2 separate regions of the Homo sapiens genome follow, and region 2 is linked to region 1. The links come from fine-mapping of genetic effects on gene expression. Tissue or cell type: esophagus muscle. Region 1 holds a variant in brackets; the other region holds the start of a gene. All regions are shown on one strand. Distances are between the middles of the regions.

Region 1 (8,106 bases):
AGGCATCTTAACATAGTGCCCTGAATCAGTGAGATATGTGATCTAGCAGTGGTCAGCATGCCAGCCCAGGGATCCTCTGAGGACAGGTAAGACCTTGAGGCAGGCCCTTGGGGTCCTCAGTGTTTAGCAAAGGATCCCAGTAAATCTGCAATGGGTTGTAGTCCACTTGAGCTCAGCAAATGCTCAGAATCCCCTCCCCCAGACTCCAGATTTTAGAATGTTAGAAAAATCGCTTGTCGGCCAGGCATGGTGGCTCACGCCTGTAATCCCAGCACTTTGGAAGGTCAAGGCGGGTGGATCATGAGGTCAGGAGTTCAAGACTAGCCTGGCCAACATGGTGAAACCCCGTCTCTACTAAAAATACAAAAACTAGCCAGGTGTGGTGGTGCACGCCTATAGTCCCAGCTACTCAGGAGGCTGGGGCAGGAGAATCACTTGAACCTGGGAGGCGGAGGTTGCAGTGAGCCAAGATCGTGCCATTGCACTCCAGCCTGGGTGAGAGAGCGAGACTCCACCTCAAAACAAAAAAAAAAAAGAAAAATTGCTTGTCAATTACTAAGCTAGGAACAAAAGCTAAGCGTGGAGCTTTACACAGAAAGAGTCAAAGTCTAGTTCCTACTGAGAACTGGTATTTTATACAGATGACTTATGGGAAATTCAAGAATACATACTGTGAAATCCATGCTCCTCAAACTGATGAAAGGCAAAGAGAAAGATCTGTTCACAATGATCAAGGGATCATACTCTAGACCAGATTAAATGAGCTCAACACTAACCATTCCTGAAATGCAGAGATGTATGTACGGTCAAGGAGTTTTCCACTTTTTAAAAAATATCCATCATTTCAATTTCAAATTTAAAGATGTTGAAAATGTAGAAAATACTTCTGTTATAAAAGGAATTACTAGTAGTTTCCTTCACATAGGAGGCCCCTTATGCATTAAAAAGTAATTGTAATTACATGCCATTCTTCAAATGGCATTATTGCAAAAAGAGAGATGTCTGTGTTCCCCTAGCATGTTGTCATTTTATGACAGCAGTTCCCTGAATTTGACTTGTATTATATTTGTATTATATATACACACACACGTACACACATGTATACGTATATCTTTTCTTTTCTTTTCTTTTCTTTTTTGAGAAGGAGTCTCACTCTGTCACTCAGGCTGAAGTGCAGTGGCACAGTCTCAGCTCACTGCAACCTCCAACTCCTAGGTTCAAGAATTCTGCCTCAGCCTCCCACGTAGCTAGGATTACAGGTGTGCACCACCATTCCTGGCTAATTTTTTTGTATTTTTAGTAGAGACGGGGTTTTACCATGTTGGCCAGACTGGTCTCCAACTCCTGACCTCAGGTGATCTGCCTGCCTCAGCCTCCCAAAGTGCTGGGATTACAGGTGTGAGTCACTGCGCCCAGCCCTATGTTTTGTTTTTTGGAGACAAGGTCTTGCTCTGTCATCCAGGCTGCAGTTCAGTGACACAAACACAGCTCACTGCAGATCTTCTGGGTTCAAGAGATCCTCCTGCCTCAACCTCCAGAGTAGTTGGGACCACAGGCACATGCCATCACACCTGGCTGATTTTTTTAATTTTATGTAGAGATGAGGTCTCACTATGTTGCCCAGGCAAGTCTCAAACTCCTGGCCTCATGTAATCTCAGCCTCCCAAAATGCTGAGATTACAGGTATGAGCCATCATACCTGGCCTGACTTGCGTTATTTTTATTACTATCTCTTTCATTCAATTTTGAGCATTAACATCTTCACTCATTTTATACACTTCTTTCTCTTTTCCCAGAAAACAGAGCTATGCCTTATATAGAGCAGGGCCTTAATAATGTTTGTAAAAGGGATTTCTTTAAAACAATATTGTTGATTAAATGAGTAGGTAGTGAAAGAGGAAGAAAATCAGGAGCAAAAAGGAAAGAAAGAGACTATAAATTAAAGTGCTGAGCACTGCCTCTGCAATGATCTGAGGAATGCCTGTGGCACATCACTTTACAGCAATAGAGTTTGTTGAAAATGGACAATTAGAATTAAATAATTTTGTCCCTCTAAGGCACCTATCATTCAGCCTTGCACATACTGCATTGCTCAGTGATGTACAGTTTGTTTTAATGATAGAAACAGACCTGCTTTCAGATCGACCTAGGAATTAAGTCCTACTCTGCCATTTACTAGCTGGGCAAGTTAATTAAACCCTTAAGCCTCAATTTCTGCATCTGAAAAAAAATGTAAACAATAAAGATACCTATTTCACAGGAATAGGTATCTTTTTTTGAGAACTTGTCTCAAAAAAAAAAGAGTGTCTTCTAAGGACAAAATATGTCTTTTGTTTGAGTACATCTGATGTTGGAACATTTTATTTGAATAGGTACCAATATATCTGAAGGTCCACTTTAAAGGAACTGATGCCTGTAAAATAATTAGCACAGTGCACAGATCCTGGAGTACTGAGCCTGCTTTCGCAGTGCACAGCACCCAATAAATGTTAGCCATTATTATTGCAGTAGGAGTACAATAGCCTTTGTTGAATGTCTGGATGTTTCATACAATATACTCCCAGTTCCCTTACAAAAGTATCACATTGGACCATGTAAAATTGCCTATATGCTGCCATTGGTGTTTTCTCTCTTTCTTTTCCCCCAAATCATATGCGACCATTGCTGACCTTCAAAAACAAATTTCATTTGATCCAACATATTAAACTATTTTGGCTCTCTTTCTTTCGAGATGCTGCTGCCAAAAAAATGCTTATATGAATTTCTTCCAGAAAGTACTCATGAGAATATCATCAGACATATAGAAAATGTTATTCAAGGATGTCTTCTGGCTGGGCACAGTGGCTCGCGCCTGTAATCCAAGTACTTTGGGAGGCCGAGACAGGAGGATTGCCTGAGTCCAGGAGTTTGAGACCAGCCTGGACCACATGGCAAGGCCCCTATCTCTAGAAAAATTTTAAAAATTAGCCAAGCATGGTGGCATGCACCTGTGGTCCCACGTACTTGGGAGGCTGAGGCAGGAGAACTGCTTAAGCCTAGGAGGTAGAGGCTGCAGTGAGCCATATTTGCACCACTGCATTCCAGCTTGAGTGACAGAGAGAGAACTTGTCTCAAAAAAAAAAAAAAAAAAAAAAAGAGTGTCTTCCAAGGACAAAATATGTCTTTTGTTTCAGTACATCTGATGTTGGAACATTTTATTTGAATAGGTACCAATATATCTTCCCTGACTCTGCTACAGCCATATAAGTATCTTTAGAAGCCACAAATACCTATGTTCCGAGCTGGGCTTTTGCCCTGTGAATTATGGTTATAACTTTGTTCTTCCTTCTCTGCTCATCCCACAATCAAAATCTCCAAGTTAAGATTTTATTTTCCTCTCAGTTGAGTCCAAATTTGTGCTAATAGCTATATCATGTAGGTCAATTCAGCCATAAAGATATACCTAAAGTCAATACATTTTTATAAACTATCTTTTCTTTCTTTCTTTCTTTCTTTGTCTTTCTTTCTTTCTTTTGTGTTTCCTTATTTATATAAAGTACCTTTTAACAATAACTAGTTTATAAGTAGATTAAAGGGTTGTCATTCTTCACCCTACTAAAAGAGAGATTCTGAAGAATAAGGTAACATAGGAGACTAGGAGTTGAGCGAGATGTAATATGAAATCTCTTCCAGAAAATATTAGATAGACCTGCCAGGTATTCTACCCACTCAACATTTTTTTTCAATCTTAGGATAGATAATGAATAAAGGAATCAAATAATCTGTATACTTCATTGAGCAGGTAATACATGCAGGCATTCTACTAGGTTCTTTCACGGACATCGTTTCATGGACGTGCACCTCACAACAACACTGTAAAGTAGTGAGGTGCTATTCTGAGCAAATGGGATCTTAGAGAGAGCAAGTGACCTAGCAAGATCACAAAACTAATAAGTGACAAAGCTGAAATTTGAATACACATCATTTAATTTCAACATAGCCTACTTTCCCGGAGACATCATTTCCCCCAAATTATATGCTTTTTAAAATATATTCATTCCCCTAAAATTTGGTTGTATGACCAGAGGCAATTATATAGACTTAATTAAACAGCCACTCAAACTGAAGTTCCCAGCAACCTACATTTTCTCCCTGTGATTAAATATCATCTGCACATCTAAATTGAGAGAAACTGACAAGGAGTGGCAGAGGCACAAAGGTGTTGCAAACCAAGCCAGAATAAGCAAAAATCTGGCTGACAGTCTTGACCCCTGACTCCATAAAGTAGATGGCATTTCATTTATCTTTGGGTCCCCTAGAGTACTTTGTACATTTAAATGATGAATTAAAAATTGACCCCCTTGTGCAATCTCGGACAAGTCAAGCAGTCTCTTTGGAAAAGATGGACCCAGGTGACCTGGCAGAGCTCTGACTCTGTGAGCATCTGTGACCTTCCAGGGCCACTAGTCAACTTGTATAGGGATTACATGAAGGACAAAGAACTTGTGGAGCCATGTTCTTAGCTGCATGATGGTAAGACGATAAGCTATTTTTCCGAAGACTAGCTGTCTTCTGAGAGTTTTTCTCTGGGCCTTACCTGTTTAGAAGAAGTTGGCTAGTACTTCAGTTGTTTTCTTTGCCGTAATAAGAGAGGAGCTATTCCAAGTCAAGATTTGAGACTTGGGGACTTTGGGAAATTGTATTTTCAATTGAGTAATAGCCAATCTATGGTCTAAATTAACATCTAAGGCTTTTTAACCTAAGTACTCTAATTAGCATGAGAGACAATTTACTTTTTTAAGAACTTTGTGATCAGCCACAGGAAAGAAATTTCTTCAAAATCTTATGTTTTTACTCCCCTAAATTCATGCAAATCTTCCCACTACCCTATATTATCTCCATGTTTGTTTTGATATGAAATCATTCTC[C/T]GAAATTTTTCAAGTTAAAATAGACCTTTTAAAAAAACTGCCATATTGATCCTGGAACTTCGCTTTCTCTCAAAACACAGCTTTGTACCCTCTAGATACTAGAATGTCCACAGTCTAGTTTAAAAAGCAAGCATGGATCCAAATAGCTGCTACCACCTGTCCAGATTTATGTAAAGAATGAAGTCAGCAAAGCATGCAGCTATTTGTTTCCATGATGCCCAACATTTAATTCAATATTTTAGCATCACATGGATGAATAGTGAGCATGCTGGGCCATCTTTTGAAAGTTGTGTCTAGTTGTCTTCTTTGCAATAAAAAAAAAATGCACTTCATATTATTCTAAGGTTGATATCACTTCTAAATAGAGCCTAACTTACATCTATACCTTCTCACAATGGCAACAGCAACAATAACAAGCATCTCTTGTTTTTCCAATAAATTTTACCATAGACCAAGAAAACAAGATGCTTTTTTTTTTTTTTTTTAATGGAGAGGAGGTTCTTAAAAACTACCTGGGGTAGGGTAGAAGGGAAGGCCATAATATGATGAGTAGAAAACTTTTTAATAAAGAAATTAAGGGCTGAGCGCAGTGGCTCACGCCTGTAATCCCAGCACTTTGGGAGGCCGAGGCGGGTGGATCACTTGAGGTCAGGAGTTCAAGACCAGCCTGGTCAACATGGTGAAACCCCATCTCTACTAAAAATACACAAATTAGCTGGGTGTGGTGGCGAACACCTGTAATCCCAGCTACTTGGGAGGCTGAGGCAGGAGAACCGCTTGAGCCTAGGAGGCAGAGGTTGCAGTGAGCAGAGATTGTGCCTCTGCAATCCAGCCTGGGTGACAGAGTGAGACTCCAAAAAAAAAAAAAGAAGGAAAGAAAGAAAGGAAAGGAAAGGGAATGAAAAAGAAAAAAAAAAAGAAAAAAGAAAAGAAAAGAAATGAAATTAAGAGATTGGCTAGACCAATATTATAATGGATATTTTAGTGCTTAAATTTCTTATACAGCATTCTGGATTTCACAGTATTTCTCCAGATTCGATTTTCCCTTCTCTTTTCTAAACCTCATGATACAATAATGCCAACGCAGACCCTGCGCTGCATTGAGACACAAGTGCTTTGAGGAGATTAGGTTGATTTATGCCCAGTAGATAGGATGGACTTCCTGAGTCTAAGGAGATTAAGAAGAACAAGAACAGAAGGCACCTCTGGAACTTTTTATTTCTAGTGTCCTAATGAATTGAGTAATTCATTTTGTTTTGACTGTATAGGTTTGGTTCAGCCCTACATAGGTACTGTCCTGGTCTGGGGACTAGACTCTTAGCCCCCAGAAGACAGTCGCTTAAAACTGCAGGCAGGCACCTATGAAAACTCTTAGGACAGCACACAGGACTTCAGATCATGGGTCACAGAGGATTCTACCCTCTCTTTGTCTCCATTCCCTCTCTTGTGAAGAAATGAATCAAACCACCCTCCCTCTATCTCCACCCAAAACATCACAGTTTTTAGCCAAATATTTTTCCTCTGCTCCTTAGAAGAGAAAAAAGGGAAGTTCTTTTTGCTGCATTGCCCGGAGCAGCATTTACTAGATAGCCATAGTAATCATGTATTGTAATTATTATTGTAATTATGTCTCTCAAGTGTGGAAATACTATAATCCAACATTTTCAGTCCTAGATCTTAGGTACTCTTTTTCCAATAGACCATCTAGAGTTCTGAATTGTAATCAATTAATAGCAAAGCTACTTAGGAGATAAAAAGTATGGAGGGAGAAAGTAGGGTATAAACTAAGGTTAAGCAAACAAGCTCTATAATCAAACAAACTGTTCAAACCGTGACTTTTCCATTTTCTAGCTATGTGAATTCAGAAAATGTTAAAATTTCTTTAAGCCTATGTGTCTTCATCTGTTAAAAAGGGATGATGATAGTACACCCCTACTAACATGGTTTTATAGATTAAGTGGGCAAATGCATAATAGAGCACTTTTCACCATGCCTTGCGCTTATTATGAAAGAAATGATAATTTTTCATAAGACAGAGGTCCAGCCCCCATCCTTGGGGAACATAAAATGTAATTGGGTCAGGACATATAGATACAGTAAAATACAGTTTGGTAGCACTAAACTCATAATACTGAGCAACGTAAAACGTCAGAGAAAGGAAAGAGAGTGACCTAGGGAGATTTCATAAAAGAACAACATATCCTAGAATTTGAAAATTGGGTATGATTTGGATTAAGCAAAAGAGAGGAGAAAGTATTTCTAGTTGGAAGGAGAATGGAAGTATATGAAGCAGCAGGGAGAATATGAATAAGAGGCCAATGAGTAGACCATGTGGTCTGTAACAGGGATATTTAAGCGCCATAGCAGGATTAGTCTAAAAAAGTCAGCTCCAAGAGAGACTGGAATAATTGGCAGAAGACTGTGAAGGTCAACATTTAAGCAATAGGAAGGCACTGAAAATTTCTAAGCATATAAGCAACATGATAATAGAGAGCAGGATGGATTACAGAGGGAGGAGAAGGGAGATGGGAGAATAGATAGCTATCACAGGAATCCTCATGGAAGATAACAATGGAGAAAGCTGATTAAGGAAATGGGAAAGGACCAAAGCAACAGATAGGAGAGACTCTTTGAAAGATGAACTATCAGTGTGTAGGGACATATAGGATAAAGGAAAAATGTAAATCAAAGTCTCTAGGTTTTGAGATATATTACAGAGTTTATGATTCAATTTCATAATATGCCAGCAACACAATTCTCTTTAAATTATGGCATACATCTGCCTATACAATCCTAAAATTTTTTATTTATTGTCTTATATAATTAATCAATACCCTATTTTACCCATTTTGTAACTTTGAACTTTAAATTTGCTTTATTCATTAATTTGTTCAGCAAATGCTTCTTGGCAACCCTATACAGTAGGCACTGTGCTAGGCACTGGAATTAAAATAAAGATCACCAGGCCAGGCGTGATGGCTTACACCTGTAATCCCAGCACTTTGGGAAGCAGAGGCTGGCGGATCACCTGAGGTCAGGAGTTCGAAACCAGCCTGGTCAACACAGTGAAACCCCATCTTTACTAAAAATTCAAAAATTAGCCAGGCATGGTGGCGGGCACCTGTAATCCCAGCTACTCAGGAGGCTGAGGCATGAGAATCACTTGAATCCAGGAGGCAGAGGTTGCAGTGATCCAAGA
Region 2 (8,106 bases), 37 kb before region 1:
TGGCCCTCTTGTCATATACTACATGTCTTTGTCTTCCCTATGTGATCATTTACCCTTTGATACTAGGACTTTGTCAATCCTGCCTAAACTTGACGCCCAGCAGGATGCTAGGCACACAGAGGTCACAAAGCTCTGATCATGGTGGTCAGCAGGTACCATGCACATGCGACCCTGCTGATGCTCCCTTGAGTTGTTTATATGCTTGATGGTTTATACACCAATGCGAGAGTGATTAAGACAATCTAGGATCCTTGCCTTTCTTGTTAAGCCTCAATTCACTCACTTGCAGAATGAGAATAATAGAAAAACCCACTCTGCTTTGCAGGGTTGAGAGGATTAGATACAAGGTCTCTTTACTTATCTGGTACGTAAAGTAACTTATGTATCTCCAACCACCTTTACATATCTGAAAAGGTCAGATTGGGCTGGAAGAATCAGCTGAGCTCAAGCATTACTACTTCTTGGGAACCCACCCAAAGCCTCATGCCCATCTCCCATCTTCCAAAGACTGGCCAACAGGGTCTTCCTGTGGTTGCTTCTATCACAAGGATGATATCCTCATGTCTATTTCTTCTGTTTCTTCCTACCTGACCATGAACTTTCTAAGGGCCAGGAACATGCGTTTATCACCATTACACTCCAGCATCTAGTACAAGGACTGGCACACAGTGGGTACTCAGTACTCAGCAAATGTTTGCTGAATGAAAACAGGGCCATGCAAAAGCATGGAACTGTCTGGACTCAGCAGATTCAAAGTTCAGCTGCTGAGAAGTCAGAGAAAACCATGTCCTGGGATAGGCTGGGTAGAGGCACTGCACATTCTTGGCAAGCCTGTCCTGTGTCACTGAAAAAGCAGGCTGTCGAGGGAGCCCACCAGGAAGAGCAGTGCAAGAGAAGAGATGAGATGAGACCAGGTGAGTCAGATCTTGTGACCATGGCCTCAGGAAGGGATGCCCTTCTGTGTGGACGCTGTTGCCAGCAGGCCAAGACAGAGGAACTAACAATAACAGTGGTGGGTGATTGTCACGGATTATCTCATTTTATCCTCACAATGATCCTATGGGAAAAGGGTGATGAGCCACTTTACAGGGGCAACTCTTGAGGCCTCAGTCCCTGTAGACTTCAAAGCCTCAGGACAGGCTCACAATTAAGCATTTTATAAAACCACACATTCTTAAGGTTGGTGAAGGCCTTATATCTCCTAGTTCACCTCCCCTCCAAGAGATGCTCAAATTCCTACAACATTCAAAATCCCAACAAGCTTCTTGCTTCCTTCCCATGCTGGAGGGTGCACCATCTACTCCATCCTTGGGCAGCTCTGTCTACTAAAAACGCTTTCTTACAGATTCCTCATTTCTACCCATCAACCCCACATGTTCTCTTTGTATCTACCCAGAACAAAGTCAATCACAGGCACGGAAAGCCCTCCAGTTATCGGGAGGCAGTTACCACCTCCCCTCCCCAGGATTTAGAAAGAACACCACAGAAAGAGATTGCATAGGCTGCTCAATGTGCAATTTGTTTCATGCAGGTTAACAAACGCTTCTAATTGATAACGGAAATCAGAGGGAGAAGACGCATATCTTGTTTCAGTGAGGGTGATCCCTGGGAGTCTGGCTGGGGAGAGGGGATAAGAGGAGGTGAACTGACACCAAAATCCACATAAACCTTAACAGTCTTCAAAGAAAAACCTATAATAACGCCAGAGGGGGCTTCTGAGATCAACTCAATTCTTTGTTGTATAAAGGAGGAATTGAGAAGCAGAGAAGTGACGCAAAGAAGCACAGTGATCAGTCTTGGAACCTGCCACCTGTGTCCCTTTGTCCCACGCTGCCATGCATCTGCTCCAAGACGCTACAGAAGCCACCCTGTGATTTCAGAACAATCCTCCCATAATACCACCACCATCTCCAGTCTCACTTTCACCACATCCCCAAGAGGGAAGGGGAGGAAACCTATCATTAATTCCATTGTACAGAGGGTAACCATGAGGCACCGAGGAGAGGCAAAGAGACTTGCTCAGCGTCCCCAGGCAAATTAAATTTATTCTTGGAACTCAAAGCTCAGTTAAGACTCTTTGCTCATTGTTGACAATGAGCTACTGAAAGGGGCCATGGAGTATCTTCCTCTGGAAGTGGATTTCCTAATAAATGGAAGAGCCTGCTGTTCAGTTTTGTACTTTTTTATGGTTGCTGGGTGTGCCGACACAGAGAGATCTTCAAAATCGTGCTCTTCTTTTCCTTCTGCCTCCCCAACCAGCGTGCTTCAAGGGAAGGAGCACTGTGGAGAGTGTCAAGAGCCTGGGTTCCTCTCCTGGTGGTGCCCTGGCCGGCTCTGTGTCCTGGAGCATCCCTCCTACCCCGTGAGCAGCAGTTTCCCCATCTATAAAAACAGGGGCAATAAATTCTGCCCCATCAGTAACCTGGACGCTGTGAGGCTGAGATGACTAAGCACAAGCCTGAGGCAGAGAGGCCACTCCCACAATAGGCAACTGTCCCTTTGCTTCTCTCACTTCCCCAGCTACCTGCCTCCTCCGCAGCCCTGCTACACAGAACAGGTGAAACAGGAATGAAGGTCTCATCCAAGCAAGGGAGAAAAAGGATAAACTCTTGTAACATCATCCCAGCAGTCCCTGACATCTGCATTTTCCCAAGAGCACTCACAGTTATTAGCATATTTCACCATTTATTAAGTCCCCCGTGCCATGCACCCTAAAAGTGTTCTTAAGCATCTTCTGTTGCATTTCGACCTTACAACTACCCATTTTACAAATGACAAAACTTAGGCTGGGATTTTAAGGGATCACCAGTAAGCAGTGGAGCCAGGAGACAACCCCAGTTCTAATCCAGTCCAGTGCTTCCCAAACTGTAATGTGCCCATGAATCACCTGGGGAAATGGATGAATAATTAGATTCTGATTCTGCGGGGCTAGACTCAGGCCTAAGCTGCTACACTTGTAACAAGCTCCAAAGTAGATGGACTAAACTCTTGAGTGTCAAGGGCTAGATTTTAATTCTATTAAGGTAGAACCTGTGCCACTGAATCTCCAAGGCTTAGCACTGGACCTCCCCATAGAATACACTCAATAATTATGTACTGAATGAGTCAATGAATATCTGGCTTAAAACCCTATGCGTTAACCCTTTTCTGTATCAAGTTCCATTGTATCAGCTGATCCTCCCAACAAATTCCTAGGGTATGATCATTCCCATTTGATAGATAAGGAAACAGAGACTCACAGTAAGTAACCTAAGGCTTTACAGCTTTTGCGCAGCCAAGGCTGGAGGTAGTCTACCTTCAGATCCTTTGACCTAACCACAGCTGTTCCAAAAGATACGGCGGGGGAGGGGGGGACAATGACACCCGGGGATAACAATTACAGACCACCGGTTGGAGAGGAGCTGACCCATCCCAGCATGTGACCGGCTCACAGCTCCAGAGGTCACCAGAGAGCTCTGAGCTGCTCCCTGGGGGAAGGGGCAGCCAGGCCTGTAGCACCTCAGGAGAGAAACAGGAAAGGGAGAAGGAGGCTGGTCCTGGGCATAGTGCCAGGCAGCAGTGGGCAGGTGGTGAAGGGACCCCTGACCTCCCGGGCCCAAGCACCCGCTTCGGGAACCAGCTCTGGACAGACACTGTCCAGCTTGCGGGGTGGGAGAGTTAGAGGCGTTCAGGAAAATCATTGCCTAGCGATGAATCACCGGGCACATGACCCCGCAGGGGAGGGGAGGGGAGGGTGCGGAACCGGCGCGGGAAGCGGTGGGGGCTTGGGGAGGGCAAGCCTCCGGCTCGGGCCCCCCTCCAGCCTCGACTTGGGGAGCAAAGGGAAGCCCCTCTCCCATGCAGCACCCCTCCTGGCAGCACCCCGCCTGCGGCGAAACTCACGGCCTTCAGCTGCTCCAGACGGTCCTTCATCCTGAAGCCCAGGCGCCCGGAGGCAGGTAGCGCGTCCCAGGTGAGCGCGTCCCAGGTGAGCGCTTCCCAGGTGAGCTGCCGGAAGCGGCGGCCGGGCCCGCCGGGGCGAAGGAGCTGGAGGCGCAGGCGGCGGCGGGCGGCGGCCGCTAGCTAGGAGGAGCGTCCGAGGCCACGGGAGCCTCCGCCGCGCAGCCCCCTCCGCCCCCACCGGCGCCTCGCGCTCCAAATCCGGCTCCCGGGCCGGCGCCGGCGCAGCGCTGATCCGCCCTGGACCCGCCCCTACCTGGCCGCGCCCCTCGCTCCTTCTTAAAGGGCCCGCGTCCCGCCACCGCCCGGCCGCCCGGGGCGTCTCCAAAGCCCCCTTCCCTAACCCGAGAGCCCTCCAGACACGCGTGGAGTCCGGGGAGAGGCCCCTGCACCGGCGGATCCTGCCGCAGGGCCGAGGAAGAGCAAGAGCGACTGTCTGGCTGCGGTCATTCGCTGTCTGTGCCGGGCTCCTCGCTAGGATCCAGTTCTTAGCCGACTCCTTGCTAGGCGGGGACAAGCTCCCGAAAACAAATAAGACAATGTGATGTGGGCTACATTGGGTGGCAGTCGAGTGTTCTAAAAATATCCCGCCAGGAGGAAGGCATTCCGAGTAGCGGGATCCCGCGCAGCCTCAGGGCTGCTGGCAGTGAAAGTGGGGGGATGGAGGAGGTGTCCAGAGGAAAGACCTGGAGATCTGGAGATACAGGACGGTCAGGGTGGTCAGAGAATTTGGATCTTTTGCTTGTTGGAAATCGGGACCGCTCCGAGAAACGTAAGCAGCTCGATGTTGTTAGTGCCAGTGGAGACACTTGGCACTCACAATTTGCAGACGTTTGGGAAAGCATCGTTTCTCAAGAGGACCCCGTTCCCGTGTCTGTAAATCAGAGATGGTACCCACTTCGTAGTTCGCTGTGAAGCCTGTGAGCGAGGAGGGGCTTTAAAATACAGAACTTTGCACTGGAGCGCTCCCCGTCCTCGCAGCCTGCTTGGTGTGCAGGTGGTTCCCAGGCGGCTTCTGCTTCCGAAAAGCAGATCGTCCCTTTATCTCGAGTCTTCTCCCCGCCTCTCCCTCTTCTCCCTACCCTATTTGTCTTCTTGGGAACAAATGGCACATTCATCAGAGTGGAGATCCATAAACGGGACTGGCGAGCCGAAGATTTAATTCTGAAGAATAGGATCTGCTCTGTGCTTTCAGGTTAAAAAGCTGTAAATATCTTTGTAATTCTAGCAGTACTTTGCCCTCTTCTGCCATCTGAACGCGTGCTCCCTGCTGACCTCATCGGCTCCCATAAAGATACGGTGCGTATGGCAGAGGTCGGGCTTTGAGCCGGCCCCGCGGGTCTCGGCCGTAGTTCTCTCTCGCGTCCGGCACACTTCCTTCTGCCCGCTGTGCTCGCTGGGCAGGTTGTCCCCGCCTTAGTACCAGGAGGGCTTCCGCGCCCCCTGGTGGTCATACTAGGAAAGGCGAGTAGATCAGAAATACACACTGTCCCACCTCCTTCCCCTAACACATTTTTGGGGAGTTTGGGGGTTGTTTGTTTGTTTGTTTGTTTGTTTGTTTGTTTTTTAGACAGAGTCTCATTCTGTTGCGCAAGTTGAGTGCAGTGGCGCGATCACCGCTCTCTGCAGCCTCGATCCCCTGGGCCCAACCCATCCTCCCATCTCAGCCTCCCAAGTAGCTGGGATTACAGGCGTGCGCCACTACGCCCGGCTAATTTTTGTGTTTTTTTCGTAGAGATAGGGTTTCGCCATGTTGCCCAGGCTGGTCTGGAACTCCTGTATTCAAGCCATCCGCCCGCCTCGGCCTCTCGAAGGGCTGGGATTACAGGCGTGCGCCACTGCGCCCTGCCCCTTAACAGATTTTTGTTAGTGGGAATACGTAGTTCCCCGCGCTTCAAGAAAATAGAGTCTTCCGCGAGAGGCCGAGATATGAACAACCCTTCACGTTAGGAATCTGAAAAGGACCATTGGGGTCTGGAGTAAAAAATTCTCTTTCCACAGCAGGAATCAAGGGTGGCCTGTCTGCCTCTGCTCAGAGGGTTCCTGTTACAGGATAATTGTTTTGAAAAGAGTAAAATCATGACTCCTCTACAAATATAAAATGCACACACATCAAAGACTTTAATTCATTAATGAATGAGGAGACCAGTAAAGCTAGCCCTGTCCAGAGGAAAACACAAAGTGTACACACATATATAGGCAATCAGGAATGCTGAAACGAACATGTTAATAAATGCACAACTGGCCGGGTGCAGTGGCTCATGCCTGTAATCCCAGCACTGTGGGAGGCTGAGGCGGGCAGATCACTTGAAGTTAGGAGTTCAAGACCAGCCTGGCCAACATCTTGAAACCTCATCTCTACTAAAAATACAAAAAATTAGCCGGGCGTGATAGTGCACGCCTACAAATCCCAGCTACTCGGGAGGCTGCGGCAGAAGAATCTCTGGAACCTGGGAAGCAGAGGTTGCAGTGAACTGAGATCACACCACTGCACTCCAGCCTGGACCACAGAGCAAAACTCTGTCTTAAAAATTATATTTTTAATAAAAATAAATAATAAATGCAGAACTGGCCTCGGGGTGCTGGGAGAGCAATTGCACTTCTACCAGGCATCTCTATGGACAAGAATCATTGGCATTCCTATGAATTTTCTACAACTTACCAAGTTGGAAAATAGCTGCAAGATTTTATAAGGCAAAAATCACTAAAAAATCAGGTAATCCAGAAAGGTGCTTTAGATAAGGCCTAGCATGCCACAGGACACCCAATAATTTTTGGAGTTTTTGCCATTTTAACTTTTTTAGTTTTTCCAGACATTCCCAAGGTGGCACCTTCCATAGTTGTACAGTTTCAACTGTGTTAAAATTTCTTTGTCGGGGACTGTTGTGGGGTGGGGGAACGGGGAGGGATAGCATTAGGAGATATACCTAATGCTAAGTGACGAGTTAATGGGTGCAGCACACCAACATGGCACATGTATACATATGTAACAAACCTGCACGTTATGTACATGTACGCTAAAACTTAAAGTATAATAATAATAAGAATTCTTTGTCAGCTTGGGCAACAGAGTGACACCCCATTTCTACAAAACATACATAAATCGAGCCAGGTGCAGTGACTCACGCCTGTAGTCCTAGCACTTTGGGAGGCTGAGGCAGGTGGATCATGAGGTCAGGAGATCGAGACCATCCTGGCCAACATGGTGAAATCCCGTCTCTACTAAAAATACAAAAATTAGCTGGGCGTGGTGGTGTGTGCTTGTAATCCCAGCTACTTGGGAGGCTGAGGCAGGAGAATTGCTTGAACCCAGGGGGTGGAGGCTGCAGTGAGAATTGCTTGAACCCGGGAGGCAGAGGTTGCAATGAGGCGAGATTGCGCCACTGCACTCCAGCCTGGTGACAGAGCGAGACTCCGTCTCAAAAAAAAAAAAAAAATTAGCCAGGTATAGTGGTGCTCACATGCAGTCCCCAGCTACTCAGTAGGCTGCGGTGCAGGATTGCTTGAGCCCAGAATTTTGAGGCTGCAGTGAACTATGATCACGGCACTGCACTCCAGGCTGGGTGACAGAGAGAGACATGTCTCAAAAAAAAAAAAAATTAAAAGTATATCTATTCCTTTAAAAAGAGGAACAGGATATTTATAATGAAGCACAGATAAAGGGCAATTGGATAATTGTGGCTTTAAACTCCTTGTAATTAAAGAAATAAGCCATCTAATGTATTTCCTCGTTTGAATGTTTGAATAGCCATACTGAATTTTACTGCACTTTTATAACTTTGTTTTGTCCTGATATCTCACAATCACTCAGGGAGGGAGTTAGGGTACATATTATTATCCCCATTTTATTATAAATTAAATTAAGTACAGAGAAATAAGATGATTTTCCCAAGCTCACATAGCATGCTGATAGACATGCTGCAAAAGGCAGTGGTTGCCTGCCCAGGCTGTGGAGCCAAACTACCCAGGTCAAATCTCAGTTCTACCACTAATGGTTGTGTGACCTTTGGCAATTGATTTAATGCCCCTGTGCCTCAATGTCCTTATCCGTAAGCAAAGATAATAATAATACCCATCTCAGCCGGGCGTGGTGGCTCACACCTGTAATCCCAGCACTTTGGGAGGCTGAGGCAGGTGGATCACTTGAGGCCAGGAGCTCAAGACCAG

What was found. PIP is the estimated chance that this variant, and not a neighbour inherited with it, causes the effect.
Region 2: STX3 starts here. The variant in region 1 is fine-mapped to the expression of STX3 in esophagus muscle (GTEx, PIP above 0.99).

The regions. Positions count from the first base shown.
Region 1 is chr11:59,714,167-59,722,272 of GRCh38, reverse strand. No RefSeq gene overlaps it. Among named protein-coding and RNA genes, the nearest start is that of OR10V1, 4.4 kb to the right of the region's middle. The variant C/T (reference allele first, on the strand shown) is at 4,908.
Region 2 is chr11:59,751,412-59,759,517 of GRCh38, reverse strand. STX3 (syntaxin 3) reads right to left here and starts at 4,142. Exons shown (of 11, transcript NM_004177.5): 1 at 3,883-4,142. The coding sequence starts at 3,912. RefSeq lists a silencer at 3,942-4,201 and enhancers at 5,072-5,231, 5,168-5,462, 5,228-5,522, 5,212-5,712.